Regions from separate parts of the Homo sapiens genome. Here all the other regions are reported to be linked to region 2. Evidence: microRNA targets listed by miRTarBase, many of them from high-throughput screens and not tested one by one. Region 2 holds a microRNA gene; each other region holds the end of a gene's coding sequence. Distances are between the middles of the regions.

Region 1 (3,244 bases), not on the chromosome of region 2:
TCTCTTAGAGTGTGAATCCTGAAATTATAGGCTTGGGGCTGCTGGCAGCCATCTTTCCCGCCAGGTGGAAGAAAGAATGAGGTCAGCATGCAAAGAGATGCAGAGTCAAGAGGCCTGGGTGCAGTTGAGAGGCCTGAGGACATTAAGCTCCTGGATCCAGCCATATCTGAAGCAGCACCCACCTTCAGCCATCCCTAGTACAGGACCCAGGGAATTTGCTTTGTTGCTTAAGCCAGTTTGGGCTGGTTTTCCCTAGGGAGAGAGCACTCTCAAGAGCAGAACTGAAAGGGCCTGAGGTTCCTCACCCCCACTGTTAAGGGTGGACAGCTGATAGCAGACTCCCCTCCCCCCACCCGCCTCTGGAACAGGCAGTTCCAGCTTCCTTCCGTAAAAGGCTTCTGTGTCCTTCTCTGGGGCTAGACAATAAATGTATAAAGACTGCCAGGGCAGCTTATCCCAGCATACTTGTAGGATAACACCTAGTTTTTAAGAGAAAAGCTAGAAATTCACTTAAAGATAGTTGAAAATATTGCAAGTTGCTCTCAGCAATAAATGCCTGGTGATATGGGAGCAATTAGTTTTGAGAACGTCTCCTTCCAATCAGTCGGTCTCTTATGCACACATGTGCACACACACCTTGACGCAGAGTGCAAAGCAATCTATTTTGTTCAGATACCTGAGAAGCGGACAGAGAGCCAACAGGAAGGTGGGCAAGGCTCTCTCCCAGCAGGAAGAAGGATGTATCTGAAAAGATGACACTTTCTCTCTTCCTTGGGTTTGGGGTTGAGGCTGGCGTAGATATAAGTTTCCTGGCCCTGCATTGCTGAGCCTGCATAAAGATGATTCTTGTGGCCACAAAACCACCCCTTGGCTCAGTTACTGCAGCAGAGATGAGCCCCAACTCTAAGCAAGGCCAGGAGACAAGGGTACCAGCCACTGCTGACAGAGCCATGTCAGTGAGACTCCTGCCACGCAGGTCATGAGGATGTGTAATGTGGGCTGGGCGCAAGTCAATGGGGTAGGGACTGGCGTGGCCACATCCAGGGGTGCAGAGGTGTTGTCTTCATGCAACAATAGTGACCCCATTCTGCTGGTGCTCCCAAATGCCTAAGGGAAGCCAGAAATCCTGATTTCGATGCGAAATGCCTCAATTTTTAAACCATTCTAAAGGCAAAAAAGCAACACTAAAAGCAGGCCAGATCAGGCTTCAAGTTGGTGACCCCTGACTGGCTGCCTTTTGGGGAGTCCAGGAAAGGAAAGGAGAAATGTCCTCAGGCCCCAAGGAGACCCAAGACGCTCCTGTGTAGTAACTAGGGGAACTCATGTCAATATTGAACCTAGTTCCAGAGTCATATCTGCCCCAGGGCAAACACAGCAGCCTCCACTCGCGGGGGGAATCGAGACTCCATGTTGAGACCCTGGATCTAGCCTTACCTGAAGCAAGCCCTCCTGGACTGGCCAGTTCTATGCACCCATGAATGATCATGCTTTTGTGTTGAAGCACCTGGGCATGGGTCTCTGTGGCTTACAACCAAAAACAGTCATAATTAAACAGTTCCCTAGGAGAGAAAGGCATCTCCAGTGGGGTATACAGACAGCCTCAGTCACCCCATCACTGCCTGGAACTTAGCAGAAACCCAGGGCTCTCCCACCCTCTCCAATCAGGGATGGTCAGGCTTAGGCCATGCTGGCCAAGTGCAGGGAACATGGATTTTCACTTCAGGATGTGCTGTTCCCCACAAAGAGCAGCGCCTGTAACTCACTTAACTGCTCACCAAGCACATCTTGATACTGCATAACAGAACGTTATGCAATCAGATGCCAAGGTAAACACCCTTCATTTCTGCCTCCCCAGCATCCTTCCTCCTTCTTCTTAGGGGGGACCCCAGTACTCCTCGAGGCACCCACTAGTGCTTTTGAGAGCAGGTGGTTGGTTCCAGAGATGTGCATGTGATCCAGGCTGGCCAATCACTGCACCTCACTGCAACCCTGGATCACGGTGATTGGTCCAGATTGGGCATGACCCTGCTGGCCAATCAGCATTCTCCAGTGTGCCTGGCAACTGTGATTGGTTCAGGAATTGACCTGGCAATCGCTCCCCCTTCCAGGCTAAGACTCAGCTCTGGGAAGTGGGCTGGAGCCTTTGGGAGGAAGAGGCTCTCTTATGCAGGCAAGCTGCAGGGAGGAGAAGGGCACCTGATAGTGATGGTCCCCTGCATGGCGAAAGCAGAGCAAGAGGTGGACAGAGAGGAGATGGGCCTGGCTGACGTCGCTAAGCCCGGATGTCCCAAAGGTGTGGTATGGTAGACACCTTGGCCTTGGCTTGGTCTTCCTTACACGAAGCCGGAAGGAGATGGTTCTGTCCTTGCAATTTCAAGAGCCCTGACACCACCCACAGGCCAGTTCTGGATCCTTGCCATCCGCTCCAGACACCCCAACTTGGGCAGCATCTAGGCCTGGGGCTCCAGCCCACATGGTCCCAGGCCCTGCAGTTAGCTGGCTTCTCATTCTGGACATTTCTGGACACTGGAGGCGAGCGGGCGGCCCTGAAACACTGGGCCCGGCTATCTGGAGACCAGGGAGCTGCTATGAGACTGGCCGGAGGAGGAGGACGAGGTGGCGGCGCTGAGCTGGGAGAAGCCGCTGGTGCAGGATTCCAGGCTGGACATGGAGCCCCTGGGGAGGAAGGGCGTGGCACACGTTACCCTCTCACAGTGACAAGGCCCTTGGGCTGACACACAGCAGTGGAAAAGCTGTTGATGCTGCAAATCAGGCCCCAGGGCCCCAGGCCGATGCAAAGGGAAAAGCAAGTGACGCCATGAAGAGAAAAGCACTACCGAATTCCCCACACTCCCATCTCCCCAGATGGAGCCCAGCCTGCCACAGACCCATCAGGGGCTCCCCTGGCCTGAGGCCCTTGCATGGCCCTAAGGCCGCCACAGCCCAGGGAGTCCCCGGCCCTGTCTCCAGTCTCACTCCCTCCTTACTCTTTGCACTCAAATTCCATGGTCCTCCTCCTAGCTCTTGCAGTGGCCTTCGTGTGCGCTGAGCCTGAGGCAGAAGCCCATTCTCTCCTCCCCCAGCTGTCTGGTTAACTCCTACTCCAAACCTCAGGGCAGCGCCATCCTCGAGAACTTTCTTTTCTTGTATAGAGACGGGGCTCTCACTATGCTGCCCAGGCTGGTCTCAAACTCCTGGGATCAGGAGATCCTCGTGACTCGGCCTCCCAAAGCACTTGGATTAC
Region 2 (3,244 bases):
CATCGGGCTGGAGCGGGCCCACCTGTGCCCTTGGTGAGTGTCTGCACGTGAGTAGGGGACTCCTGCCTAGTATCAGTGGGGGTCTGGGAGTGGGGCAACTCGCTGGGGATGGGGTGCAGTGGTCAAGTCCACACGTGTGGCTGCGGCTGGCTTGGCGAGGACAAATGGCAGGAAGACCCAGGCTTGCAGCGCCACCTGCCCATGGGGACCTTATTCCCACGGCTCACACTGCCAGGGCCCCACCTTTCTCCACCCTCTGCAGACATCGATGAGTGTGCTTCGAACCCGTGTGCGGCCGGTGGCACCTGTGTGGACCAGGTGGACGGCTTTGAGTGCATCTGCCCCGAGCAGTGGGTGGGGGCCACCTGCCAGCTGGGTAAGGGCTCCGAGCGAGTGCATGGGAACGTGGGCCGCGCATGCGGGCTGCGGGGGCTGCTGGGGCTGCGGGGGCTGCTGGGGCTGCTGGGGCTGCTGGGCTGCGGGTGCCAGGTGCCCGTGCTGCAGGGGGCAGGCAGGGCCCGAGCCCCACGGCTCCCACCTTGTCTCTTTCACAGACGCCAATGAGTGTGAAGGGAAGCCATGCCTTAACGCTTTTTCTTGCAAAAACCTGATTGGCGGCTATTACTGTGATTGCATCCCGGGCTGGAAGGGCATCAACTGCCATATCAGTCAGTATGGGGGGTGGGCGCCGGCGGGTGGGCCGAGGCACATGGGACCCCGCCTCTGACCCTGCTCCTCTGCCCCCAGACGTCAACGACTGTCGCGGGCAGTGTCAGCATGGGGGCACCTGCAAGGTGAGGCGGGGCCAGGAGGGTGTGTGGCGTGGGTGCTGCGGGGCCGTCAGGGTGCCTGCGGGACGCTCACCTGGCTGGCCCGCCCAGGACCTGGTGAACGGGTACCAGTGTGTGTGCCCACGGGGCTTCGGAGGCCGGCATTGCGAGCTGGAACGAGACGAGTGTGCCAGCAGCCCCTGCCACAGCGGCGGCCTCTGCGAGGACCTGGCCGACGGCTTCCACTGCCACTGCCCCCAGGGCTTCTCCGGGCCTCTCTGTGAGGTGAGGTCTGCCTGGTCACCCTGCCCCACCTGCTGCTCTGGGAGCTGTAGGGCAGGCCTCGTCCCCTGACCATGGGGCCTGAGTGACCCAGGGGTGCTGCAGGGGAAGTTGTCCCCAAGGCGTCCCAGGCTCAGCTCTCCACTGGGTGCCAGGTGGGCAGGCGGGGCTGTCACAGGTCACCAGGCTTGGCCCCCTGTGGCCATTGCTTGTTGTGATGGGTTTCCTGGTGGCCTGGGCTAGGAGCCCCCGGGCTGCTGGCTGCCCAGGCCTATCTGTCCATCTGTGCACTCCCTCGGGACTGGAGGGCAGGGGGCTCTGGTGGGCAGAGCACATGGGGTAGGGTGGGTGCCTGATGGTGGAGAGGTATACACCTGTCATAGGTGAGTCCTGGGTCGGAGTGGGCATCTCTCTCAGGGCTGATGCTCTCGCCTCCCTCTGACCATCTGTTGGTACTGGACCCCCTCCCCCAACCTCCCCTTCCCCCCTGCCTCCAAAGTAACCTGCCTTCCCCCTTCCCCACCACCCCTACCACCCCCTTCCCCACCTCCCCCTTCCCCACCTCCCCCAACCCTGCCTCCCCCCACCCACCTCACTATCACCCCTCCCCTACCTCCCCCAACCCTGCCTCCCCCCACCCACCTCCCTACCACCCCCTTCCCCACCTCCCCCAACCCTGCCTCCCCCCACCCACCTCCCTACCACCCCCTTCCCCACCTCCCCCAACCCTGCCTCCCCATTACCTGCCTCCCTACCACCCCCTCCCCTTACTTCCCCTTTTTCCCTGCCTCCCCCCACCCACCTCCCTACCACCCTCGGCCGCCCACGATCCTGCCCTGGCCTTGGTGCAGAGGATGGGCCTCCTGTCCAGAGGGCTTCTTGGGGCCCAGGGCAGGGGTCTGACCTCAGGACCTGCAAGCATGGCAGTGGCTGGCCCTGGAAAAGACCCACAGTCTTGGCTCTGAGGGTGGCCAGGCAGTGTGTGAGGGGCTCAGGAGCTGTCCTTCCTGCCAGCAGCAGGGGCCAAGGCCACACTCCTCCCGAGGGACAGTGAGGAAGCTGGGCTGCAGTGGAGGTGGGGGTGGGGGCCCACAGGTATCTGCGTTCAGCTAAGGCCTGGGCAGTCTCAGGTGGGCAGGGGTCTTGGGCTCTGGCTGGCACTGTTAGGCCCAGGGCGGAGGGGCCTGGGGGTCCCCAGGGATCTACCTTCGTATGGACAGAGGCCTGGCCTGTGTTCCCGGCCTGGGCCTGGGCCTAGGCTCTCACAGGCACCCCCCACCCTGCAGGTGGATGTCGACCTTTGTGAGCCAAGCCCCTGCCGGAACGGCGCTCGCTGCTATAACCTGGAGGGTGACTATTACTGCGCCTGCCCTGATGACTTTGGTGGCAAGAACTGCTCCGTGCCCCGCGAGCCGTGCCCTGGCGGGGCCTGCAGAGGTGCTGGGTGCGGCATGGGGTGGTGGGGGAGGTGGTGGGGCAGGGGCGGGCCTGACTCCTGACTGTACTGCCTGCCATAGTGATCGATGGCTGCGGGTCAGACGCGGGGCCTGGGATGCCTGGCACAGCAGCCTCCGGCGTGTGTGGCCCCCATGGACGCTGCGTCAGCCAGCCAGGGGGCAACTTTTCCTGCATCTGTGACAGTGGCTTTACTGGCACCTACTGCCATGAGAGTGAGTGGCCACGAACGGCGGGCTGGTGGTGGGGCTGGGCTGGCCTGAGGCCCTGGCTCACCCCGCTCGCCTCTGCAGACATTGACGACTGCCTGGGCCAGCCCTGCCGCAATGGGGGCACATGCATCGATGAGGTGGACGCCTTCCGCTGCTTCTGCCCCAGCGGCTGGGAGGGCGAGCTCTGCGACACCAGTGAGTGTTCCAGCACCCGCCCACACGGCCTGTGCCTCCACCCCTGTGGGCCCCTTATCACCCTGAGATGGACCGCTGTCTGGGTGCGGCAGGCCCCGTACCCAGAAAGGCCTGGCCAGGGGGTGCTGCCACCATGGGGTGGAGTCCCAGGCTGCCCCCATGCCCGAGGCCAGCTCCCCCGGCCCGACGCTCCTCCCCCGCCCCTCTCTGTCCTCACCTGGCCCAGCTCCAGTGCTTCCTCCCCCGGGAAGCCCTCCCTGAGCGCCGGTGACCCCCCGCCCGCTGACCGGCGTCCTCGCCCCCAGATCCCAACGACTGCCTTCCCGATCC
Region 3 (3,244 bases), 560 kb from region 2:
GCCCCTGGGGTCATCTGGACACACAGTCCCGGTCCATGAAACAGCAACTGGAGGAGAACATGAGGGCGGATTCTCAAATCATGACTGTCCCTTTGAGGAAGTGTCAGGACCGGCTGGGCCTGGGTCTCTCACTGATGAATAGTCTCAGGGTCCTTCGGGGGTGCAGGGTGAGACGAGAGGGCGGGGGCGCCCGATGGACTGAGGCAGGTGCCCCCAGCTGACTCTCCATTCTCTTTCGCAGACATTGCTGACAAGAACGCCACAGCCACTGTCAGGGGTGAGTTCTGAGCCCACATCCCTGTGCCCCACTGCCCCCTCCGTGGGTGCACCCACCCTCACTCCCTCCCCGAGGGAGGTGTCACAGGGCCAGGGCCTCTAAGGAGTCCCCAGTTGGGGAGCTCTTGTTGCAAGGAGACCCCAAGAGGCTAGGGAGGGGCCATGGGCATGGACAGGGTGGAATCTCCCCATCCCTTCCCCACCAGCCCCAGTCCTCCAGGGAAGGGTCGCGCTGGCTGGCGCTGACCCTGCCTGCCCTCTGGCCGCAGTGCCCGGCCGGCCCAGGCCACACGGCGGCTCCCTGCTCCTGCAGCTGTGTGTGTGCGTCCTGCTCGTGCTGGCCCTGGGCCTATACTGCGGCCGGGCCAAGCCCGTGGCAACGGCACTGGAGGACCTGCGGGCCCGGCTCCTCGGCCTTGTCCTGCACCTGCGGCACGTGGCCCTCACCTGCTGGCGCGGCCTCCTGCGGCTCTGACGGGCAGGACGGGCAGGACGGGCAGGGCTTCCAGGAGAGCTCAAGCACTCCGGGGGCTCCGAGACAGCCTGAGCCCTGGCCCTGCTGCTTGGTGAATCATGGGGGCCAAAAGGGGCTGCTGCCTGAGGGCTAACTAGGAAAAGGGGGACCCCGTGGCGTGAGATCGGACATGGGGGGCACAGCAGGCGGCCCCGCCACACTAGTCAGCACAGCCCTCCTGTCTCCTGTGTTGGGTCCATGTGAGATTTTATTAGAAAGAGGATTCGACTGCTAACAGTTGAGGCTCCCCAGGCTCACCCAAAGACCCCTCCCTCGTCCCAGCAGGAACTCCTGCTGCTGCTAGGGCCTGGCCCGGCCATCACCGTGTGCACCCTCTTGAGGAGGGGGACACACTGCCCGTGTTCAAGGGGCTGCTCGGAGGAGGCAAACCCAGCCTTTTGCGATTATGGCTTGTGGGGAATCCAGACCTCGAAACCCCACGGGGAGGGAAGGGTCTGGTTGTCAAGGTGGGTCCCTTTGATGTGAGGTGCCATCCTCTGAGCCCAGGTCTGACCCCCCTACCCAGCCCCGTGAGTCTGGAGAGGCCCCAGGGAAGGACCCCTCATCAGGGGCGGCTTCAGGTGTAGAAGCCGAGGGGACAGCAAGGGGCCCAGACACCCCCGACCTTCAGAACAGCCATCTGTGCCCAGCTCTGCAGGCCAGGCACACCCAGCTGAGCCCGGGGCCAGCCAGCACCACCCACCAGCTGGGGCCTGTGGGTCCCGGAGACCGTCTGTGGTTGTGGCTTTGTCGCCGGATTGCAGAGCTGAAGGGAGCCCTGTGGATGACAAACACCAGGGGCCTCTCCAGACCCTACGTGGGGGGAGGGCTGAACAAAGCAGGGAGGCCCACGGTTAGACACCAGGCAGAACTGCCCAGGAGAGACACAGGGACAATCAGACCAGCGTCCTCGAGGTTAGCCTGAGGCGGGTGGGCACGGCCGACCATCCACCCGGTGGTTCCTGTTTGTCCCACCACTTAACTGGGAGACACTGTTTTATTAAAACACACCGTGGCTTCCTTCAGTCTTGGTGTTTTTATAGAAATGAGAGAAACCAGAACCGATTTGCTAAGGAATCGGCCTCAGTGGCCAAAGCGGATGTCCTGGGCGCCTGGAACCTCCCCATCTCCTGCAGGCCTGGGAGTGGATGTGTCCACTCGGGCAGGGGCTGACCAAGCCCCTGGGTCTTGAGGGATGCCCGGCCGGCTCCCTTTGCCCTGCAGTCAGGGTGTGTCCCTGCAACTCCAGGTGCCAGGGAACAGGTGAAGTGGTCTCCAGGGTCACTTCCAGCTTTGGAATCCAGGGAGCCCAGAGTTGCGGGTGGAGGTAACAAAAGGGGCTGTTTCCAGAAGTGGCCCAGAAGGGACCATGGTGGGGGCTCCCCCGGGGACCCTCCAGCATCTCTCCCCAGGCCCAGCCCATCCCACCCCACCCCAGGAAGGAGGATGGGCAGGTTCCTGCCCCATATTCTGGATGCAGAAGCAGCGGCTCCCAGAGGTTGGGTCTCTCAGAGCAGTCACAGGCCCAGGCTCAGCCCTGTGTGCTTGGGACACCCCTCCAGCCCCGGTTCTGACGGGGGACACCGCACAGGCCGATCTCCCCCAGCCGCTGCTGTCTGTCCACTGCAAAGGCAACGCAAGGACGTGCCTGGCTTTGCGGGGTCCCACGCTACGACCTCAGGTGTTTTCGAATAAACATTGCTCAAAGATGGGCACCACACCCCCAAGAGATCCTTCGAAATGGATCCTCCCACCTGGGGAAGCTGCATGGGAAGCAGTGAGACTCGAAGCCACTAGAAAATGTACAGAGAGGAAGGCAGAACCTCGGGAAGGCCAACTTCTAATTCCTAAAAGCTTCGGACACGAAAGGCTCAAAGCCTGAGCAAACTGTGTGTGACCCACAAATTACAGACAGTTAGAACCACGAGCCAGGCCAGCCAACAGCGGAGAGGGCAGACAGAAGCCCCACACGCTCCTCCTCATCCCTGTTGGAGACTCGGGTGCTTTTGTTTTTATTTTGATTTTGAGGAATAGACACATGTAAGCTTAAGGATCTTTACTTTCAGTTTAGCCAGAGTGGAATTAGAACAGGGATATCATTAACAGCCAGCCAGGACAGAAGCGAAGGCGTCTCAGAAGCAACTTGGTGGACCAGCCTCAGGAACCCCGGGTCATGCCTGCACTTCCCACCTTCCTGCCTGGGGAGAGGCCCAATCCCCTGAGGGACCCTGGAGAGCCCACGACCAGGGCCGCCAGCCCCTGCCCAGCACACTGCAGGCCCAGCTGCCCCTTCCCAGGGCGATGTGTCTGGGCTCCGGAGACAGCCCAGTCCAGGGTGGGTCTATGTCTGCATGCAGCCGAGGATTTCCATCACCCTGGCCATGGGGCTGTTCCACACCTGCTCCTGGGATCCAGCAGTGCAGCCCCCAAGAACAGACCCAACCGGGGCCAAGC

Evidence for each region. The annotated mature microRNA hsa-miR-6765-3p reads UCACCUGGCUGGCCCGCCCAG and lies in region 2 at 861-881, shown strand. An mRNA with a match to its seed (bases 2 to 7 or 8) in the 3' UTR can be bound and repressed. Matches are read on the target gene's strand: a 7mer-m8 pairs with bases 2 to 8, a 7mer-A1 pairs with bases 2 to 7 and ends in A, and an 8mer does both.
Region 1: miRTarBase lists SEC14L5 as a target of hsa-miR-6765-3p. Seed matches in the 3' UTR shown: 7mer-m8 at 1,502-1,508.
Region 3: miRTarBase lists C14orf180 as a target of hsa-miR-6765-3p. Seed matches in the 3' UTR shown: 7mer-m8 at 2,036-2,042 and 7mer-A1 at 2,051-2,057.

What each region holds. Positions count from the first base shown.
Region 1 is chr16:5,014,291-5,017,534 of GRCh38, reverse strand. SEC14L5 (SEC14 like lipid binding 5) reads right to left here. Exons shown (of 16, transcript NM_014692.2): 16 at 1-2,676. The coding sequence ends at 2,565. Among named protein-coding and RNA genes, the nearest start is that of NAGPA-AS1, 18 kb to the left of the region's middle.
Region 2 is chr14:105,148,415-105,151,658 of GRCh38, reverse strand. MIR6765 (microRNA 6765) reads left to right here and starts at 795; the gene lies at 795-881. It overlaps JAG2 (jagged canonical Notch ligand 2), which reads left to right. Exons shown (of 26, transcript NM_002226.5): 8 at 1-33; 9 at 263-376; 10 at 555-668; 11 at 748-794; 12 at 882-1,055; 13 at 2,339-2,489; 14 at 2,570-2,722; 15 at 2,801-2,914; 16 at 3,220-3,244.
Region 3 is chr14:104,588,033-104,591,276 of GRCh38, forward strand. C14orf180 (chromosome 14 open reading frame 180) reads left to right here. Exons shown (of 5, transcript NM_001008404.3): 4 at 242-277; 5 at 546-2,483. The coding sequence ends at 751. TMEM179 (transmembrane protein 179) reads right to left here. Exons shown (of 4, transcript NM_001286389.2): 4 at 2,832-3,244. Among named protein-coding and RNA genes, the nearest start is that of C14orf180, 9.9 kb to the left of the region's middle. RefSeq lists an enhancer at 1-301.